Linked DNA regions of Homo sapiens. The protein of the gene in region 2 interacts with the protein of the main gene of each other region in a pairwise test. Each region holds a gene or a part of one and is shown on either strand. Other genes may lie near its edges.

Region 1 (7,029 bases), on a different chromosome or scaffold from region 2:
TCAGAGTTTAACAGGCTAGTGAGATAGGGCAAAACAATTTAATATTTACTGATTTAAACAATCAGGGCCTTTATATTAAGACAATTACTTTTGTTAATTTAAAATAAGTATTCAATCAATCTGAATGGCTTTGGTCATTTATGTAGTAATCTTAATCACTCTCAATTCTTTCTAGTTATGAGGCATAATTTCTCATGAGTAAATTTACCTGTACTTTAATATTAAATATAAGCACCTTTTTAATAACCAGAGTGTCTTTGTAAACATATTCCTGATCATTTTCTGCTGCATATAATAACCACTTATAAGCCAGGAATTACAAATACAGGATGATGGATTGATAAAAATGTCTGTATTCTTTTAGCCACATTTAAGTGGAAAAGTAATAGCTAAATTCCCTAATTACAACCTACATCGGTTATACATACTGATATATATGTATATCAATGTGCATACGTATTGGTACATATGTATTGGCATGTATAACCAATGTAGGTTATAATTAGGGAATTTAGCTATCACTTTTCCACTTTAGCTATAACTGTTCCAACTGTTAACACACTTCGCAGGATTTTGCCAGAGATAGATGTTCCCTCCATTGGAGAGGGAAGGATATTTGCCTGCAGATGCAGACATGCAAGGGAAGAGATTTTGCAAGAGATGAGCTGGAGCAACTGCAGGGATCCAGGAATTGTGCTCTGAGCTTTCTGTTTGCCTGAGGGTAGCAGGTATCTGATAGATGTTTGTTCAATGAAAGCGCTACCTCAGATTCTTCAGAGATGATGCTCCTAGAAGCATCCACAAGCAGCTGATAAAGCCTGGGTTACATCCTTCAGGCTGAATTTCTGTATGATCAGATTCTCCAGGAAAAGCCTCCACTTCCAGAGTTACAGCATCCTGTACCACATTCTTTGGCAAAGATGCTTTGGTGATTCTTACCTACTATAAAACCATGTACACACATGGCCTCTAGGGTACTGACCTCTCCGGGGACCGTTAGACAATGCTGAAGGATGTTTAAAAGATACTTACTGCTCGTGGAGGACAGGTGGCTGTAGTCGGACCTGAAACACAAGACCTCAGCGTTAGTAGAATTCTTTATCCAAATGATTTATTCAAGCCAGAATTTTAAACAGTCAGTGGTAAGTAGCATTTAGCTGGTAAAGAAATGTCACCAATTAAAAACTGCAGTGCTAAGGCTCATTTTATGCAAAATAAAGTTATGTCTGAATTTGAAAGAAAACTTTAAAGGAACTTTAGAATTCTGGGGGCTCTCATGTGAGTTCTGCAAATTCCTCTGATGAGGTTTGGAAGAAGCCATCTAAAGGTTTAGCAAAAATATTGAATGGTTATTTCTCTGGGGAGAAGCCCCAAAGTTTTCAACAGATTCACCACTCACAGATTCACTCCAAAGGTTACTGCAAATGAGCACCCTTCAAATATTCGCACAACACCATGGGGAAATGTTCTTTGCTAACATAAGCAGAGGATCCCAGCGCGAGGAGAGAGGGAACCTCAGCTGCGAAGGTTTCCACATTCAAGGTGGGGCTGACCACCAGGAAACAAAGGCACAATGATATTTCCACTGATTTCAGTTCCATCTGAGAAGAAAGCCTGCTGGATATTAGAGTAACAGGATGTGAGCTGTGATCGGGAAAGGGAAAAGGCAGGCTAAGGCTGGGGTGAAATCGCCCTTTCAGTTTCTATGCTGAGAAATCAGCTGCTGGCATTCAGCCTCCGTAAGAGTGGGGCTCTGGCCAAGGATCTGCTTAATCTCTAGTAAGTTTCTGCCCTACTTCTGTAGCTGTTAAGACTTTCCTCTCTGGCAACAAATTTGATATGGAAGCTACTTATTTTCTTCCCCTAGTGTCCCAAAGTCATTCTCAGTAGGAAATTAATCACTTTAGCACGTAGGGATTTATTCTGCCATGGAAGTTAGGGGACGAAGTTATGCAAATAAACTGCTTAATTATGTTTAATTTTATAGATATACATTCCTTTTATCTCCTTAGTCTCCTGCTGCCTTTCCTGAATCATCCAATTTTCACTCCATTGAACTTCTTGCCACATTTAAAAAAGTACATGCAAAACTTTTTAAAAAAATCATAAGCAGCATGCCTCTTACTGATTAAAATAACCTACATCACTCAAAATGCTGCATTGATTTATTGGTCGAGGAACAAAATGGAAGAAAACAACATGTGGTTTTCACTTTCACAAATGAAATACTTTAGTAGTCATGGAATCAATGAATTTTAAAACTGGAAAGAATAACAACTACCAACATTTGCATATCCCTTTATATATTACAAACTGCATTCATATATATATATATAATTCAATATTTTATTGACTAGGAAATTAAAGTGATACTATCTGTACAGAGGCCAGGAGGTGAGCAATGATTAGTGACTGAAGTTGAGTGTGCACGGTGGGTGGAGAGGAAGGACTCCGAAGGCAGAAGGGATTGACTGGCTAGCACATGGTGACATACTAGCTAAGGGAGACAACAGAGAGGGGAGGGTCAAGGATTAGCAACATTCTGAAGCCCAGGATTTGTAACCCAGTACTGGTGCATTAAATTCTTTCTGGAACCATTCAGGACATAAACTTTAGAACAATACTTGGAAATGTAATTATATATAAACTTAGTGACTGCTCAGCAAATATCCACTGTGGTAGATGCAACAGGAAAACAACTTGATTACAATAAAATCATCTTAAGATGGACAGACTTTAAAGAAATGTCATGACTATTCAAATACAACACACAATAAGAATGGCGATATTTCTATTTCTTTTATTCTTTAAAATGTGTATTTTCAGCTAGGATTTTCCAAATTCTCTTGAAGCAGATGGGATTCACATATGCATACATTTTAAAGATCTGCATACAGATGGATATGTATGTAGAATGAAATTTACACTTGAAACATAGTTCAAGAATCTTAAAGTGCAACAGTATTTTAGTGTCTTGGGACAGGTGCTGGCATAACTGATGCCCCTCTATGAGTCCCTCCACGTTTCTAGAGACTAAGGGCACCACCGGGTTGGGCCCGCCGAATGGTCAGCCTTCTGACAATCACGCTGATCCTGCTGCAGTTCCCTCCACATACAGCAGCCAATCTTTGCAAAGGATAAATCTGATCATGTCTCTCTCTGGATGAAATTCAAGCTCGCTAGTGTAAAACACAAACCCCTCTCTCCGTGACGGATGGCCCAGCTCTGCTGTCCAACTTTCACCCGGGTCCACCGTCACAACGGAAACACACAGAAAGTCACCTACAGCCTCCCACTGCTCTCCAGCCTCTGATCCTCAGTATATGCAATTTGTACACAGTTGCCATAATGATGGAGACACAATTTTGAATTGCTCTTTTCACTTGATACCATCATAACATGCTGCTACACATTTCCTGTAATTATCATTTTAAATTAATACACTATAATTTATTCAACCCTTTTGTTGGCTAAATGATCGCTCCTGGTTGTTCACCTTTACAAAACACACGGCAATGAGGTATTTATGAATATGGCTTTATATTTATTTTCTTTTCCTTAGAAAAATTATCATGGGTGGAAATATAGACTGATTTGAGGTATAAATACTTTTATAGCTCTTAAAATATATTCCAAATAACCTCAAAAGCTTATTTACTAGAAATACGGTTAGGAAAGACAAACTACAAAGCTTGAAACAATTCTGCACATAATAAATAGGTTCAAACCATTTCAGAGAATAACCAGGTATTTCATTAGGGTTCTCTGGACAAGTCTGTACTCTGGACAAGTTTTTTTTAGGCAAGAGGAACAGCAGTAGGGTAGCTGCCTTGAGATTTCTGTTTATTGGTCTCACCTTTTAAGAATTTAGTTAGCTGGCTATGCATAAGACATTCAGCCCTGCCAGAATGAAGCATGAAAGGTGAATTTAGAATGAAAAATTTATACACGATATAGAGCAGAATAATACAAAAATTATGTACATTCACACACCTGACAAATATAGACACATTTCCAAATATTATTTACTATTTGTGCCAATAATGAACAGAAAGTTAGATGCAGTCCCTTGTCTATATTAATTACAATATTACATATAGGGATTACATAGAGGTTCTGTACTTAAGACAGTTTACCCTATCAGACAGCAGCCTAGCTACCAAATGATATACTACATATATACAGAATACTACATATATATATATACTACATATATACAGAATAAATTATTTTCCAGGAAAATCATGGCATAAGAATTGATCTTGGCATTCCTGTAAAATTGATCTTGATGTTTCTGTAAAACATCAGCTATTGAGCATCATGAACTTCTTCTGTTAACCCTCATTGCACTGAATTAAATTTAGTGTTAACTAGCTCCACCTTGAATACAAAGATAACAAAGTACTAACAAACGATCTGGTCTTCTATACAGCATTTCCCCTTTCATCTTTTTAAAAGACCTATCCCATTTAAAAATTCATCCCACCTATTCTTTTCCACCCACCTATTTAAAGTCTAGACCCCTGATTTTTTGTTATGTCTTAAGTCACAGCGAAGTATCAATTGGAGGTCCTCCAAAGAAACAGGGCATGGTATGGCCCTACAGGTTCAGAAGCTCAGTGACAGCTGAGATGGAAGTGGAAGTTCATTAATGCCAGACCAAACTATTGAATGAAAATAACCCATCACATACAAAAGAGTGGCTTACATGCCAAATCTTGAAGACATCACTAATGAAACAGTCATTATAAAGCACTGGCTTTTATTTGGGTTTACAAGGAACTGGCTGTCCTTCTATTTAAGGGATTCTGTTTCTTAAGATAGTTTACCACCATCAGCAGCCGACTTGCCAGTTTTTGCTAACAGAAAGTACATAAAAGCACAAGGCATCTTTCAAGTGGATTTGGAAAATGGGAGTTTCAAAATGATATCAATTGCTACAGAAGAATACTAGTTTGCTTTTAGTCTTGGCCTGTATTAGGTGGGTGAGACAGCAGCAGCAGCATTTCAAGCAAAAGAAAATGTCTGAGCAGAAAACAAGAATTAATTACAGATCAGACAGCTCCTGGAGAGGCAACTTCACTAGGTGGGAAGCATACTGGAGATCCAGGCTTCAATTCATGCCTCTAACGAGCCATGTGCCCTCTGAGTCTCCATTTCCTCATCTGTAAAATATAATTATTAGAATAGTGAGGCATGCCCTGTAGTCTCTCAGATGCTCTGAATGATCAAATTACTTAAGGTATTTAAAAGCAACAGAGGATCTATTGTGATGAGTTTGAAAAACATATGGTCTTGAGTTCACCATTTTTATTAAATAAAACTCTAAGTTTATAATTTGGAGTGTTCCTCATAACAATAATAATATAGTATGGTGAGAAATAATCATGTACTAAGGGTTCTAGACACTGAACAGCCACTGTTCTAGGGGCTTTAAATATATATGCTCATTTAATCCTCACACCAACCCTAGAAGGTAGGTACTACTATCGTCATCCCTCTTGTACAGAGGAGGAAACTGAGAGCAGAGAGAGGTTAAGTCACTGGATCAAGGTTTCACAGTCCCTAAGTGGAGGAGCCAGAATATGAATGCAAGCAGGCTGGCTCTTGTGACTGTAACTTTCAAAGTGGCCAACATGGCCACTGGCAGTGGGACCCACAAAGTTTCTCGGAACTGTTTCTTCCATCATGCCACTGAAAGGATAATCAGCTTAAGCAATACCCTGACAGCCCTTGTTTCTGTGTTTTGTTCACACCCCCTTACCCCAAATTCTGATGATCCTAACTACCCACTCTCTCTCTCTGCCTGACCCTAGGTAGTTGAGCATTGCTGCGAGAAAATAAATAACAACGGGAACTCGTACCCCTTGTTATTTATTTAAATACGTAATTGCAAATTTCAACTGGGCACCCACTCAACATTGCCCCAAACAACTATTCAAATCTCCATTCTCCTCAGATGATGGAGGGCTGTATTTACACCAAAGAGAAACCCCATCTTGCCTGCCCTTCTAATTGCAGGAGGGGATGTCCTGCCTCCTACCTAAAGCCATCCATCCCCCTGTGGTATGAAGTCCATCTGCCTCCACTTTTTCAGAATGCTGACACTATAGGGCCAGAAGCAGTGGCTCACAACTATAATCCTAGTGCTTTGGGAGGCCAAGGTGGAAGGACTGCTTGAGGCCAGGAGTTTAAGACAGTTTCTGAGCAACATAGCAGGACCTTGTGTTTATAAAAATAAAAAAATTAGCTGGGCATGGTGTCGGTGGTGCGGGCCTGTAATCCCAGCTACTTAGGAGGCTGAGGTGGGAGGATTACTTGAGCCTTGGAATTTGAGGTTGCAGTGAGCCATGATTCCACCAATGCACTCCAGCCTGGGTGACAGAGAGACCTGTCTGTTAAAAAAAAAAAAAAAAAAAAAAAAAAAAAAAAAAAGAAAGCAAGCAAGCAACATTACAGATTATCATCTTTTCTCCTCCTTCTCCTTCCCCCTTCTATAGAATCCTTTCTATCACACTGATTGCTCAATTAGCACCTATATTTAAGAAATCTTTCTTCACTCCACTCTCCCCTTTAGCTACTGCCTCTTTTTGCCTCTCCTTTTTCCAGACAAAGGAATCCACCTGTCTCCTTTTCTTCACCTTCTACTGCCTTCTAGAGCCACTCTAATCTGGCTCCTGCCTCCACCACCCCGCTGTGAAATACCACTCTTCCTTCACTTCATCATCTCCATTTAAAAAAGACATTTAGCGTTCCTCATCTTCATTAGTTTCTCAGTAGCATAGTTGATCTCTCCTTCCTTTCTCAAAAACTCAAACCTCCCTTGGCTTCAATGATTCATATTCTTCTTTCTTTGACTCCAAGTCTACTCTTTCTCAGGCTCCTTTATCAGCTCATTCTCATTGACTGGGCGTTTAAATATAGTTTCTCAAGGCTGGTCTTAAAAAGCACCTGCTGCACAGAGTTGTTGAAGGATTCGAGGAGTCCATGAAATACATAAAGGCTTAGAACAGTAGGTGGCACATACTA
Region 2 (6,525 bases):
TGGATTCTGGCCTCTTCCCTGGGGTGTTCTTCTGGTTTTTTACTTCCTGGTATGACCTCTGGACACAGATTTTGGCCTCATATAGGAATGCCACCATTACATATGTCCTCATTTGACATTACTCTCTAACTTAACATGAGCATCTTAGTTTTGTGGTCTTCAGTTTTTAAAGGGATGCTCTGAAAACACTGTTCTGCAGTGCACTGTGCAACCTATTTCACTCCTGGGTTTAGCTGACCTCTTCTTGTGCTAAACTAACTAGGAAAATAAACTAGGACTGATTATCAGTCTCTTTACCTAAATCTTCCTTTTCTTCCCACACTGTAATCATGATTATTTCCCCAGACAGTCTCTATTTCTCTACATTGCACTGCCATAGACTACCCTATTAGCCCCCCTAAATGTAGCTCTTTTGGTTTGACTTTAGTAGTCAATGAAAGAAGGGGTACATCCCCAGTCTCACAGAAAGCACATACACACAGATTGAACACCAGAAACTGGTCTTTCAGTCTTCCATCTTGCCCAATATTTATTTTTTATTTAATATTTTTCATATTGTGCCATTTCCTCAGCATTTACTTACAAATTTAAGTTCCTTACATTAATAGGTTTTCCCTCATGTGAATTCTCTGGTGTTGACTAAGGTTTGAGCTCTGACTGAAGGCTCTTCCACACTCACTGCATTCATAGGGTTTTTCTCCAGTGTGAATTCTAAAGTGTCGAATAAGATGTGAGCTCACTCGGAAGGTTTTCCCACATTCACTACACTCGTAGGGTTTCTCTCTGGTGTGAATTCTCTGATGCCTGATAAGATGTGAGTTCAGGTTGAATGCTCTCCCACATTCTTTGCAACCAAAGGGTCTTTCCCCAGTGTGAATTCGCCGATGTCTAGTAAGATCTGAGCTCTCTGCAAAGCTTTTCCCACATTCATTACATTCATAGCATCTCTCTCCAGTGTGGATTCTCTGATGCCTAGCAAGTTTTGAGCTGTGCCTGAAAGCTTTCCCACATTCATTACACTGATGAGTTTTATCTCCACTGAAAACTGCTGCATGTTTAGCAAGTTTTGGGCTCTTGAAAGATTTTCCATATTGGTGATTTTTTTCTCCAGCATAAATTATTTGATGGTTAATAAAATCTGAGTTCCATTTGAAGCTCTGGTCACAGGTACCATGTTTACAAGATTTCTGGTGTGTGAATTCATTTGAGTTCAGATTTAATCTCCTCTCACATCCATCGTGGCTTATTATTTCACCTCTGACTGTATTTTTGTGGGTGAGGATTTTACCAAAACCTTCATCCTGGGCAGACGAGAGTCTCTGAGACTCCCCTGATTCTTTTTCCCATTGTCTCTTTACCCTGCCTGCAGACTTACAGATGTCTTGAGACTCACCAGATGCTTCTGATATGTATCCTGAGATTCTTCCAGATATAATTCTCTGTGATTCAATTTTTTCAAAAATTTCCAGCTTTGGCATGGATCTACTGTTTTCACTCTCATTATCTAAAATAAAAAAGAAAGGGAAATATTACCTGTTTGCTGCACGAAAAGAAAATTTTATAGCATGCTCAAGATAGTTACATATTGATATGCCCACTTTAATATATGACCTTTCACATGAGAGGAATGATAGAATGAAAGAGGATGATAGGAATGAAAGAAACATTGGTAAGAGCAAGTAATGCCTGCAGTGGTTGGCAGAGAGAGGAATCAGACGTGAAGCATATATATTAGAAAAGATTGGGAGGATTGTCATCAGCAAGAACTCAAGAGATAGGGGGAGATAGAGTACGGAGAAGGAACTCTACAATGTTGACTGCAGCAGATCTTGGGAACCTTGGGTCTATGATACATTTCTAGAGGGAAAATGGAGGCACTACCTCAAAGAAAGCAGATGAGAACACAAGAGAGAAAAGTAAAGCTATAAGTGACTGTGAAGTATGTGTGAGAAAACTTCCATCCACCTATTGTCTATTTCTTCCTCATATTCCATGGTTAATCAGTCTTCTAAATTCTGTCATCACTGTCCACTAAGTGTCCCTTGTATAAATCCCTTCCTTTATATTTCTGCTACCATCGCCATAGTCTCGAACCTTACCATTTCCTATCTAGACTTTAACTGCCTCCTTGCTGTTTTGACTCTGCACTTTTCTTCTTCCTAGTTATCCTAAAGATCCTTACTAGACTAATGGTCATTAAACACTGCCATCCTTTCATACCCTACTCAAAAACCTTGAATCTCTCTCTCTCTTTTTTTGTTCAAGTCTAAATTCCCAAGCCTGGTTTCCAAGATCCATTTATGATCCAGTCTTCACAAATCCCACTCTATACTGTGCTGGAATTGAACCGCCCTTCTTTATTATAAGCTGTCCTTTGTCTACAATACGCTAGGGCAGGAAAGAGGGTTAGGGAGTGCTGTTCATGGGGTGAGGGAAATTTACAATTTTATATACGACAGATGGAGATGTTTCCAGAACAAAACTGAAGGCAGAATATGTAGAAATTTATTAAAAATTAATTGTGGCCAGGCTCCGTGGCTCATGTCTGTAATCCCAGCACTCTGGGAGGCCAAGGCGGGCGGATCACGAAGTCAGGAGTTTGAGACCAGCCTGGCCAACATGGTGAAACCCCGTCTCTACTAAAAATACAAAAATTAGCCGGGCATGGTGGCAGGCACATGTAATCTCAGCTACTCGGGAGGCTGAGGCAGGATAATTGCTTGAACCCAGGAGGTGGAGGTTGCAGTGAGCTGAGATCACGCCACTGCACTCCAGCCTAGGTGACAGAGCAAGACTCTGTGTCAGGAAAAACAAAACAAAACAAAACAAACAAACCAAAAAATTAACGGTAAGTTATTCTTGGGTTTACTATAGGGACAATTCACACCTTAAGTGATACTGCATCTATGAATCTTTTAAATAGATGAGTTTTAGAACAGAGATGAGTATTCTGTGGAAGTAGTCTCTAGAACTATAGCTAACTTTCTATAAAAGTGTAAAAGAGCTTTATAAGACCAAGAGCATAACAGGAAAAATATGGATCACGGTCTATGTTACTTGTGAATTATATACTATTTCTCAGTATATCATCATGTATCTGTTTCTCTTGATCATTATATGTACTTCTCTATGAACATATTTTGCTTCTGTCCATGTATTTCTTTTTCTTTTCCTTCTTTTCTCTTTTCATGATATTTTCTCAACTCATTCACTTTTATTTCCTTTAATTTGGTCATATCATAAAAATGTTCTGTGTTTTGGAAATATTCTGGATAAGGAACAAAATTATCTTTTCCCCTACCATTGGCCAAAGACTCACAGGAAAACAAGTTCTCTCTCTCTTTTTTTTTTCCTTTATGAGATGGAGTCTTGCTCTGTCGCCCAGGCTGGAGTGCAGTGGCGCAGTCTCAGCTCACTGCAAGCTCCGCCTCCCAGGTTCACGCCATTCTCCTGCCTCAGCCTTCCGAGTAGCTGGGACTACAGGTGCTACGGCTAATTTTTTGTATTTTTAGTAGAGATGGGGTTTCACCATGTTAGCCAGGATGGTCTTGATCTCCTGACCTCGTGATCCACCTGCCTTGGCCTCCCAAAGTGCTGGGATTACAGGAGTGAGCCACCGCACCTGGCCACAAGTTCTCTCTTTTCATTGGGTAATAAAGGAAAGGACCATCTACAGTTACCAAGACTAGTTTGTGGAGGGAGATTCATTCCCCTGTTTCTTTAGTGATGTGCACTATATGGCATTCTGCCCCTCACCACAGTCCCATAGGAGCTGGGGTTCTGATGAATCAAAATGGGCCTTGGTCTCCACTGGCTGTAACTTGACATTAAGTGCTGGTCCAGGAGGTGACACTTTTTTCTGGAATATTTCTTGTCCATGTTCATGGGCTTGAACCTGAGAAAAATAAAGTACATTTGGGCTTATAAAAGAATCCCTGTGTTAAACGTCTTCTAACAACAAAGAGAAACTCCCATAGAAATGCAAAACTGGGGAAGGAAGAATCGAGTCTGATTTAATTGTAAAATGTAGTGTGGAATCAAACAGACAGGAAAGGAGACATAAATGCACACTGAACCAACAGCTCCTGCAAGCTAGATATGCAATCTCGGGCCTCTCCTCCCACCGTGGAACTTTATCCATTATGGAGGTCTTAGATCTCCCATCCCCTGTGCACCTGGAGTACTGCTTCATCAGTGCCTCTCTCCAAATCTTCTAGTATGGTCACTGCCTCCTCTCCACTCTCTGGGTAATGTTCATGTACCCAGGCCTGCAAATCTCCTGGCAGGATGGTCAGGAACTGCTCTAGCACCAGCAGTTCCAGAATCTGTTCCTTGGTATGGATCTCTGGCTTCAGCCACTGACAGCAGAGCTCCCGGAGGCGGCTCAGTGCCTCGCGAGGTCCAGGAGAATCCTGGTAGCAGAACTGCCTAAAAAGCTGCCTGCAGAGCTCCTGCTTAAGGAGTTCACTTCTCTGTAAGCAAGTGTCCTGCCCATGGATAAATTCTTCCTCTTCTATCTTCACTATCAGAAGTCCTTCATCCTCTGGAGAGTTCTGGGCTGCAGCTTTCTTTGGTTCTGTAGCCATCTGTGGATAGAATATATTATCAGAACTGCTTTGGAAAGGGTCTTCTTTAGTTTCAAGAGTCCTCCTGAGGGATCAAAAGTTACTATTACTGTCTAAGAAGATGAAAGACCACATAATAAAAATCGTCATTCTCCATTACACAAAAATTTACTGGGCATTTACTATATGCAAAAGCACTGACATACTTGGTTTCTAGAATACAACTGTTAATGATTTCTACTTCAAGATAGCTTAATTTTTAAATTTAAAAATAAGATAAATTAGAAACAATAAACTTAAATGTAATGCTAAATATTAACAATGTACATGTTATTAAATTTTAAAAGTCACAGAGAAAATAAGGATAAAAAAGAAAAATGATAGAAGTGCTTCATAAAATAGGAGATGAGAAAAATACAGATGGTTGCAATGGTCAAGGGAAGCTTAATGCAAACATGAAATTCTGAAGAATAGAAAAGATTTGACTAGGATGTGGGAGGGAAAGAAATAGGAAATTACGAACAGAGAAACAGTCTGAACAATTGGGTAAGAGTAGGAATACAGAAGAGGGAAAGCAAAACGTTTAGTAGGTTTGTATAAGAAAATTATAGAGGCAAAGCTTGGAGATGTTATTGTAGAAAACATCAACTGTGAAGTTCATGAATTTGGAGTTTATCTTTTAGGCACTGGGGAGTCACTGAAGAGGAGTCAATTCTTCTGAGCAGAATGACCTGCTAAACACTGTGGAGATGAATATGTTCTTCATTTCTAGGGTGGGTGGCAATATGAAAAGATAGAGGCCACTGTATTCATGCAAGTATGAGGTTCTTTTTTTTGTTTTTTGAGAGGGAGTCTTACTCTATCACCCAGGCTGGAGTGCAATGGCGCGATCTCGGCTCACTGCAACCTCCGCCTCCCAGGTTCAAGTGATTCTCCTTCCTCAGCCTCCTGAGTAGCTAGGATTTCAGATGCACACCGCCACACCTGGCTAATTTTTTGTATTTTTAGTAGAGATGTGGTTTCACCATGTTGGCCAAGCTGGTCTCAAACTCCTGACCTTGTGATCTGCCCACTGCCCATCTCAGCCTCCCAAATTGCTGGGATTACAGGTGTGAGCCACCGTGCCCGGCCTGAGGTTCTTTTACTAAACATTTCACTAAGTTGACTACTGACTGATGCAATAACACACATTTTATTAAGAATCTTATCACAAGCAAAGCATTGGGCTAGAAGTTGTACAGCAATGGTTTACAAGAAAGTCTGAATATGACACTGGGCTTGCTGCCTAATCATCATATGGGATCTTTGGTAGAAACAGGTTCTTGGGCCCTACCTCTGGAGATGCAGACTAGGGGCCTGCTCCTAGAGATGGTAACTTGGTCAGTATAGTATATGCCTGGAAAATCTGTATTCTAATATACAGCTTAATGGATTAAACAAAAAGTCTTTGAGTTTGAAGAATAGAAAAGATTTGACAAGGATGCGGGAGAGAAAGAAATAAATTCAGTGGGAAGAACTAGTTGGGAAGAAATTATAAAACATGGATACAAAAGATTTAAATGAGAAAACGTTTCACATGACATATACATTGTACATGTTTGTTAAATGTTGAATGTTGAAGTATAAAATGAGTTTATGGTGGAGATACTGAATGTTCTAACGGTCCTGAGGTGGGAAGAGACTGTGAATGGTAGAAGGTATTTCCTAGAGGTGGTGGGTATTAGAAATAAATTTTCGGTGCAGCAAAAGAAATAGCACTCGAACATGAATTTTCTCATCAAGGCAATTTTGCTTCTATAGAAAGGTGTGTCTCGCAGATGGAGCAATGGTGAGAGCATACCTGATCAAGGGAGAGGAAGGGGTTCTTATCTCTGACGCAGGTAGTCCCTACTGCTATGTCGTTCCCCTATTGGCTAGGGTTGGACTGCATAGTCTAAGCTAATTCCAACTGGCTGTTTTA

The links. The genes of interacting proteins can lie anywhere in the genome.
Region 1: the proteins of ZNF165 (region 2) and FAM124A interact in a two-hybrid assay, tested with the Homo sapiens proteins (2 studies listed by BioGRID and IntAct).

What each region holds. Positions count from the first base shown.
Region 1 is NC_000013.11:51,225,383-51,232,411, reverse strand, and holds part of FAM124A (protein FAM124A), read right to left. Parts: intron 1,065-7,029; coding exon 1,033-1,064; intron 1-1,032.
Region 2 is NC_000006.12:28,083,542-28,090,066, reverse strand, and holds the end of ZNF165 (zinc finger protein 165), read right to left. Parts: intron 4,587-6,525; coding exon 4,176-4,586; intron 3,896-4,175; coding exon 3,757-3,895; exon of another isoform or gene 3,709-3,756; coding exon of another isoform or gene 3,681-3,708; intron 1,505-3,680; coding exon 597-1,504; 3' UTR 504-596; downstream 1-503. UniProt on the Homo sapiens protein: May be involved in transcriptional regulation.